Regions from separate parts of the Homo sapiens genome. Here region 1 is linked to region 2. A link means that fine-mapping ties the variant in region 2 to the expression of a gene that starts in the linked region. Tissue or cell type: whole blood. Region 2 holds a variant in brackets; the other region holds the start of a gene. All regions are shown on one strand. Distances are from middle to middle.

Region 1 (4,404 bases), 21 kb after region 2:
AATCATCTCTAAAGATACATGCATAATAAACCTGGAAGGAACATCAAGAAATCTTGTTTCATCTACTGCCTCAGCCAGCTCCACAGTCTTAAAATTCAACTGCCGGCTGGCAGCAGTGGCTCACGCCAGTAATCCCAGCACTTTGGGAGGCTGAGGCAGGCGGATCACCTGAGGGCAGGAGTTCGAGACCAGCCCAGCCAACATAGTGAAACACTGTCTCTACTAAAAATACAAAAATTATCCGGGCGTGGTGGCAGGCGCCTGTAATCCCAGCTACTCAGGAGTCTGAGGCAGGAGAATTGCCTGAACCCAGGAGGCAGAGGTTGCAGTGAGCCGAGATCATGCCATTGCACTCCAGCAAGGGGGACAATACCAAGACTTCGTCTCAAAAAAAAAAAAAATTCAGCTGCCTACAGAAAGAACATAATTCTTCAAATGTATGAATAACATATTAAAATAAATAAAAACAGCACTGCTTCCTACCTGTTCAACATATATAATTAACTGAAGCATATGAGTAGGAGTACAACTAACAAATATATCAATTGAATGAGTTAAGTCAGTTATTTTCTAGAAAGTATCTAGAATCTAGAATTGAGTGTGTAAACAAGCTCTTGAAAGCTATGAAAACATACAAACTTAAGGCGGTTCATAAAGTCATTTTCTAAAGTTTGAAGAAAATATTATTATCTTGTATAATTCTTTAACTTTAAGGATCTAGATATCCAAGGAAGTCAAGTAACTTAATCACGACTATTCAGTCGGCTGGATGGAGACAGAGCTGGTATTAGAATGTAAGTTGCCTGTTCAGGACTCAGTAATTTTCACTCTCAATTGTGCAATCACTTTTCAAAAATGCTTCCCGTTTAGCTGAGATCCTAAAGGAAGAAAAGTTCAAGTATTAATAGACCAAGAAAGTAGGGCTGGTGAAAAGCTCTACAGTTATATTAAATGGTGACAATTATATTAAGCAAGAAAGGCAAGGAACAAAATAGAATCTCAATTACATTTAAAAAATATTCTACAATATAAGGTATACATGTAAAAAAAAAAAAGCACATAGAGTATTTTTTAAAAAGAAAGTTAAATAAGAAACATACCAAAATGTGCCGAGCACAGTGGCTCACGCCTGTAATCCTACCACTTTGGGAGGCCGAGGCGGGCAGATCATCTGAGGTCAGGAGTTCGAGACCAGCCTGGCCAACATGGGAAAACCCCATCTCTACTAAAAATACCAAAAAAATTAGCTGAGCGTGATGGCACACACCTGTAGTCCTAGCTGCTCGGGAAGCTGAGGCAGGATAATCGCTTGAACCTGGGAGGCGAAGGTTGCAGTGAACTGAGATCGCACCACTGCAACCAGCGTGGGCGACAAAGCAACACGCTGTCTCAAAAAAAAAAAAAAAAAAAGAAACATACCAAAATGTTAATAAAATGATCTCTAGTTGTGAGATTATGAATACCTTTTGCTTGCTATTTTTTCTACTTTTCAGTGTTTTCCAAGTTTCTTGCACATGTAGCATGGAATACTTTCCTAATCATAAAAAAAGATTAGTTTAAAAAATTACAGGTTAGGTGAAATTGGCTGTGTACAATAATTTTCTGTTCTCCTCCCCTCCAACAGAGATAATCAAGAGCTAACAAAAGTACACAATGGTCTTACTGAGTAAGAAAGGGAGAATATAAAGTGTTCTAAGAAAACTCTAAGGTTCAAAGTTGAAATAAGGGTCAAGCCACGCACAGTAGCATGCACCTATTGTCCCAGCTACCCAGGAGACTGAGGCAGGAGGATCACTTGAGCCAAGGAGTTCAAGGCCAGCCTGGGCAACACAGTGAGACTCAACTCAAAAAAAGAAGGATCAACATTTATCAAAATCAAACTTTACTGTCTCCAGTGATCCTACTATGCTAGGAGGTGCATTGATATATTAGCTCATTTGTTCACTATAAGTCTGTTAACTTAGCATTATCACCTAGGAAATAAAATAGTCAGAATGGTCTTTAAAATATTCAGTTTCCAGAGTTCTACTGATAGATTTTAGGATACTGCATCACATTATTAAAAGAACTGTTGAAGAAAGCACCAATGGCCAGCTGTCACAAACGTTACACTCCACCACCCCCGTATTTCAAGCACGTTAGAGAAAGTGTATCCATTTGCTAACAGACAGAATAAAAGGATGACAAATATATGTTTGTACGAATACTTATTGCTAAAATTTCCATTTTAGGAACAGTAGTAGAATGCATAATTTTCAAGGTCATGAATCTCAACATTAAGGAAAACAAAACAAAACAAGATGTTTACTCTCCAAGGTTAACTACACCTGAGAACAGCACGACTTCTCCATTACCCATCACAGTAACAGTATTACTCTGATGCTTTGGGGAAAGTTCTGAGTGTAGGCAGGTCAGAAGCGACAGCCCGCGGGGCAGCAGCACGGGCAAACCATGCTGTGTAACTCAGTATATGGAGTGATTCCATAAAGAGGCAATACAGGAGGCGGCGGGGAAGATCAGGAAAGAACTGTGAGTACCTAAGAAAAAGAAGAATACACGTTAGCTCTCTTTACTGAGGTCGGAACCTTCCGAGACCCGCCACATTTCAGCCCGACAAACCCGAGATCACGTTCACTTCCTGGTTCACTTCTTCCGGGTTAACGCACGCTCCCGGCCCCTCCTCCGCCACTACCGCTCTCCGGAGGAGTTGTCCTCGAGCATGCCTAACAATGGACTAAAATGACAAAAATGAGCTAAATGAGAAAAATGACAAAACGAGAATGAAATTGTCATCAGACAACCGCCCCCGCGCCGTCCTTATCCAGAGCGTGAGCCCAGAGCGGGGATGGAGATGGTGGGAGGGAGGGAGGGAGGGAGGGGCCAAGGTGGGACTAAACTACAACTCCCAGAGCGCCCACCAAAGAATCCTGGGAGTTGTAGTTTACCTTGCGGCAGCCTCCAACCCCCTCCACTCACTATCCAGCCAAATGTGGAGTTTTTGGTTTTCACCGTTAACTGCAAACCTAGAAGAGAGATTCTTTACGATTCTGATTAAGAGATCAAGATTTAGAACACATTGCATGTGAAATTACAATAATTTCCTTATGTATTAGAAGCCCGTAAAGCACTGTTTTCCAATATTTAAAAAAAATAAAGACTCCTTTTACATCATCCACAAATGTAGAAGATTCTGCGTGTAATTTCTATACTTTCAGCTTCCATTGCTTCAGAAAATACCTAATGACTAAAGGATAATACAAATAAATTTATATTTTAAAAGTAGTAACAGCCCCAAAAGTTAGGAGACCGTGTATTTCCACATGTTAGTGATTTTATAATGTTCTTTGCACATGGGAATGTAGGGGCTCAACCTAGATTCATAGCTTATGAACCACTGATTAAGTGAAGAATGAAAACTCCAGTTAATAAACAATTGCAGGAAAATGCAAGCATATTGTCCTACTTTGACTAATCCAGTGGGATCCAGCCCTTGGCTATCGCAATTTACAGTCTTTCTATCTCCATGCCTCAATTTTTCTTCCTGAAAGAAAAGGCAAAAAATGTACCATATTACTGACTTTACAGAGTATTTTCTTAGATTATAATCACATACATAGATAGGAGAATTAGCTATATATGCAAAATAATATCTAACGTTTATAGCCAACTTCAAGGTACCTACTTCTATGTACTATGTACTAAATACTGTTCTAAATGGTTTTACCCTATTAATTCATTTAATTTTTACAACCTTAAAATACTTATTTTGCAGAGGAGAAAATTAAGGCACACAGAGCTAAAGTAACTACTCCAAGGTAAAAAACAGTAAGTGATAGAGCCAAGACTCAATTAAGGCAATGGCTTTAATGATCTGTGGCTCCTAAGCTCTGATATAGGGCCACCCTGCTCCAAAAAAGAAAAAACCTTCAATCATGTATTCAATAAATAGTGAACACCAGTTATGTGCTATTCACTATTCTAGTCATGAGGATTTAGCAATGAACAGAAAAGACAAAAACCTTTGCCCACATGGAGCTTATGTTCCAGTAGGGGAAAAGTTTCAAAGGGTCTACATAAAGTCATTCTCCTAAGTTATCCAAAAAGTTCTTTAATTATTTATTCTGATTTGTGCTTTCAGCTATATAACTTGAGTATTATATATAAAGCTTTATTCTCCTTAAAAAATTAGTCTTAGTCGGGCGTGGTGGTTCACGCCTGTAATCCTAGCACTTTGGGAGGCCGAGCCAGGTGGATCACCTGAGGTCAGGAGTTCGAAACCAGCCTGACCAACATGGAGAAACCCCATCTCTACTAAAAATACAAAATTAGCTGGGCGTGGTGGCTCATGCTTGTAATCCTAGCTACTCGGAGGCTGAGGCAGGAGAATCGCTTGAACCCAGGAGA
Region 2 (4,404 bases):
CGAGACTCTGTCTCAAAAAAAAAAAAAAGGACAGATTTTCCTAGAAGCTAAGGCTTCCAGCACAATACCCGTTGACATGGAGTGAGTTTCCCTTGCCTCCTCCTGAGGTTACCTCATCTGGCTGAGGAAGGACAATAACCGACATCGTTCCTGTGTGAATGCGCTGCATCCTTGAGGACAGGCCCACCTCGGGGATGCGCTGAACTCGGTGAATCCCACCCTCATACTTCAAATGCTTATAGACACCGTCACCGGAAATTCGGGCGGCTGCATGATGTAGTCCACCTAGGGGAACAACAATCCAGAAATAGTAATGAATTATCCTTTGAAACAGATCAGGATCCTAAATGTCCTTAATCTAAGGCCTGAATGTTGAGTACAGAGCCTAAGATGAGAACATAAAGCATGGGAGAACGAGGGCCTCTGAAGAAGAAGAAGAAAAGAGGACATAAAGTATGCACAAAACTACAGTTTTCCAATGTAAATGTATTAAAATACAAAAGGAAACATACCAAAATGTAATTAATTATAGGAGCTAGTGATGCAACAATAGGAAACATACCAAAATATTATTTCGTTATGTCTGGGGAATAGAATAATACTTTTTTTATTTCCAAATTTTCTATAATGAACAAGTTTTATTTTTATAATAAGGGAAAACTACTATTAGAACAAAAAAATAATACTGGGATGTTTTCTGTATTGAACTACCCTGTGTAGTCTTAGGCTAATAGGGTATCATATATAAAAGAATGCTCAATAGGAGAATAATTTCATACTGTTGAATAACTCTACAGATCCTCCCAAATTTTCAAGAATTTATTGAAAGTCAGCTCTTGCTTATCTATGGAGTGGGAAGAGTATCACAAAGAATCTTAACACCTAGGCTAGCTTGTTCTTTTTTTGTTGTTGTTGAGACAGAGTCTTGCACTGTCACTGGGGCTGGTGTGCAGTGGTGCAATCTCGGCTCGCTACAACCTCTGCCTCCTGGGTTCAAGTGATTCTCCTGCCTCGTTCTCTTGAGTGGCTAGGATTACAGGCACCCACCACCACGTCCGGCTAATTTTTTGTATTTTTAGTAGAGGCGGGGTTTCACTATGTTGGCCAGGATGGCCTCGAACTCCTGACCTCATGATCTGCCTGCGTTGGGGTCCCAAAGTGCTGGGATTACAAGCGTGAGCCACCATGCCCGGCCACTTGTTCTTATCTAATGTTTTTTTAAAAATCTTTTTTATGATACAATAATATATGAAAGACAGAAAAACACACAAATCAAATATGTGGTTTAGAGTCCACCACTCAGGTCAAGAAAAAGAACGGTGCTAGTCACTTCATAAGCCCTCCCAAATGCCATTTCCAGACATAATCCTCTCTCTTCCCTATGAGTAATCATTATCCTGACTTTTATTCCTTTCTTTATCATAACTTCATTACCTAAACGTGTAGCCCTAGGCGCTACAGTTTAGTCCTGCCCATTTAAAAATGTTTGATGTATCTTTTTAGTCTATTAGTCCACATGCTCATCATCCATTGCTTTCATTTCCTACAAATGATCTGGTGAAGAACTTGGGCTGCTGACCTGTAGAATTTCCAACAGTCTGTTTTTGCAGACTGCATATTCTTGGTGCAAGTCACCCTGTTCTGCTGCCCTCTGTATCGGCAGCAATTAGGCAGCTGGATGCAGACACTGGATCAGACACCAGCTCGAGCCCTTTGGCAAGACGACAGGAGGTATACGGTGTCTGGATGTCTCTCTTTTTACAGTCTTGACAGGCTTTGACACTGAATGCATCACTGGGGTTACAAAATGGTGATAAGTCTAATTCTATCATTCCTTTCTCACTTATTAGTTAAAATACACTAATAAAGAGACACTTCCCCTTGTCTACCATTTGATTACATGGTGATACAATTACATAGGAAAAGCAAGATAAATGTTTGATTCTGTCCCTTTTATCAGTTCTACCAAGATACCAAC[G/A]TTTTTTTTTTGTAATATACTGAACTGGTTCATTTTAATCCTCTGAAGATGACCAATTAAAAGTTTAAATTATCATTATGAACTCAAGGATTGAAACACATCTAGCACGTTTAAATCAAGCACAATTATTATTAAAGCTCAACTAGTCCCATCGTTGGCCCATAGAGCCTCTTCAAATTGACTTCTGAATTCTTCTGACATGCCCCATTTGTATGGGACATGCCCCATTTGTATGGCATAACAAGATATTCCAGGATTATCTTGAACATTTTTTACCCTAGACCTGGAATCAGCCATGTCTCCAAAAAGCCCTGGTTCAAGAGAAAAATAGTATTTGAAAATCACAATTTGGGGGCTAGGGTTGTCCACTACTACTGGATTTGGTTATAATTTCTAAGCCTTTTCAGTGGCCAGAAATAGGAAATACCTCATGAGTTCATATGATGTTGAGACCCAATTTTCCATGGGTCTCCTGTGTTCCTGCACATCTTACAAATGAAGCATTGCTGGCTATTTCGCTCTAAAATATCTTTTAAAGGCGGTTTGTGTAGTGAACAGCCTTGGAAATAATGTGTCCCTCCAGAGCAAAGGACAAGTTTCCACAGCCTTGGAAGACAGAGATAGTGTCTCTTTCTAGAGCAATGTGCAGCATGCTTACTGCGCATTAAAAAAAATGGCTGGGCGCAGTGGTTCATGCCTGTAATCCTGGCACTGTGCAAAGCTGAGGGGGGCAGACAGCGGGAGCCCAGGAGTTCAAGACCATCCTGGGCAACACAGTCAAACTCCATCTCTACAAAAAATACAAAAATTATGGTCAGGCGCTGTGGCTCACACCTGTAGTCCCAGCACTTTGGGAGGCCGAGGCGGGCAGATCACAAGGTCAGGAGTTCGAGACCAGCCTGACCAATATGATGAAACCATGTCTCTACTAAAAATACAATAATTAGCTGGGCGTGGTGGCGCGCACCTGTCATCCCAGCTACTTAGGATGCTGAGGCAGAAGAATCGCTTGAACCTGAGAGGCGGAGGTCGCAGTGAGCCAAGATCGTGCCACTGCACTCCAGCCTGGATGACAGAGCAAGACTCCATCTCAAAATAAATAAATAAAATTAAAAAAAATAAAAATAAAAAAATTAGCCAGGTGTGGTGGCACGTGTCTGTAGTCCCAGCTACTTGGGAGGCTGACATGAGAAGATGGCTTGAGCCCAGTTGAGGCTGCAGCGAGCTGTGATGGTGCCATTGCCCTCCAGCCTGGGAGACAGAGTGAGACCCTGTCTCAAAAAAAAAAAAAAAAAAAAAGACTCAATTTCCTTAAGTTCAGTGCTCTTCTCCTATAATGCAACCTACTGTGTGGGCAGGTATCATCTGGTCTTCTTAGTTGTTGCCCTGTGGGACTCTGGGCTCAGGGAACTGGCACAAAAATGCTAATACTCTGGCTACTGCTATAACCCTGAGTAATAAACTGTCCTTCACTGCTGACCCATGAAACAGCAGCAGGCTAACTTGTTAGCTTGCAAGTAGGGTAAAATCTCAGACCTTTCAGAGTTTTTACAACTGACACTTCCAATTTAAATTCAACTTCAACCTCTTTTCTACCACACTTTTATTGTATTTCTTCCCATACCAAGAATCTTGGTTCTCAAAGAGAGGGCATTAGAATTAAAATATCCCAAAATTACTTATCTGTTTTTATATTACACTACACACCTAACAGTCTCAGAATACTAATACTAGTTCTACCAATACAATTACTAAAAACATTAAAACTTTTTTGCATATGCTCTTGCCATTTGCCTCCCATTTTTCAAATGATTGTACTATATCTATACTGTCAGATCATACAGTCCTTATGTAACAAATTTATTCCCCTTAGCCCTCAATTAGTCCCAGTTCTTCAGGTAACTGCATATTTAATGTTCACCCCTACTCCTTATTTTGCTATCTCTCATTTCAGTTGTCTGAAGCTTGTTTTCTAGTAGATTCCTCAGAAAGGGATCATGGGAAGAGTATTTCTTGAATTCTTGCATAATGATAACAAATTGTTCCCTTCACATTTATAAGTCAGTTTTGCTTATTATAAAATCCTTAACTCAACTTTCTTTCTTTCAGTGAACTCTCTCTCTGGCACAAAGTGTTGTTACTGAAAAGTCTGAAGGAAATCTAATCCTTGCCTTATAAGTCTCAAGGTCTTTGTTTCTACGTGCCTAATGGGTCTTTTCCCTTTTTTGTAAGTCCAAACATTTTATTAGCCTATGTCTTAGTGTTGGTCGTTCTAGCTGGGTATTTTCAGATGTGCACATGGTTTCAAATCTTTTATTTCTATTTCAGAAGAGTTCTCTGGAAATATAGATGTTAGTATTTGTCACAGGCAGCCTCAAGGGTGGCCCCCCAGGATCCCTGCCTGCTGGTATTCATACCCTTACAGT

Evidence for each region.
Region 1: MTRF1 starts here. The variant in region 2 is fine-mapped to the expression of MTRF1 in whole blood (TOPMed, PIP above 0.99).

Annotation. Positions count from the first base shown.
Region 1 is chr13:41,260,948-41,265,351 of GRCh38, forward strand. MTRF1 (mitochondrial translation release factor 1) reads right to left here and starts at 2,629. Exons shown (of 10, transcript NM_004294.4): 1 at 2,538-2,629. RefSeq lists an enhancer at 2,047-2,547 and a silencer at 2,835-2,924.
Region 2 is chr13:41,240,149-41,244,552 of GRCh38, forward strand. MTRF1 (mitochondrial translation release factor 1) reads right to left here. Exons shown (of 10, transcript NM_004294.4): 6 at 113-285. Among named protein-coding and RNA genes, the nearest start is that of MTRF1, 21 kb to the right of the region's middle. The variant G/A (reference allele first, on the strand shown) is at 1,979.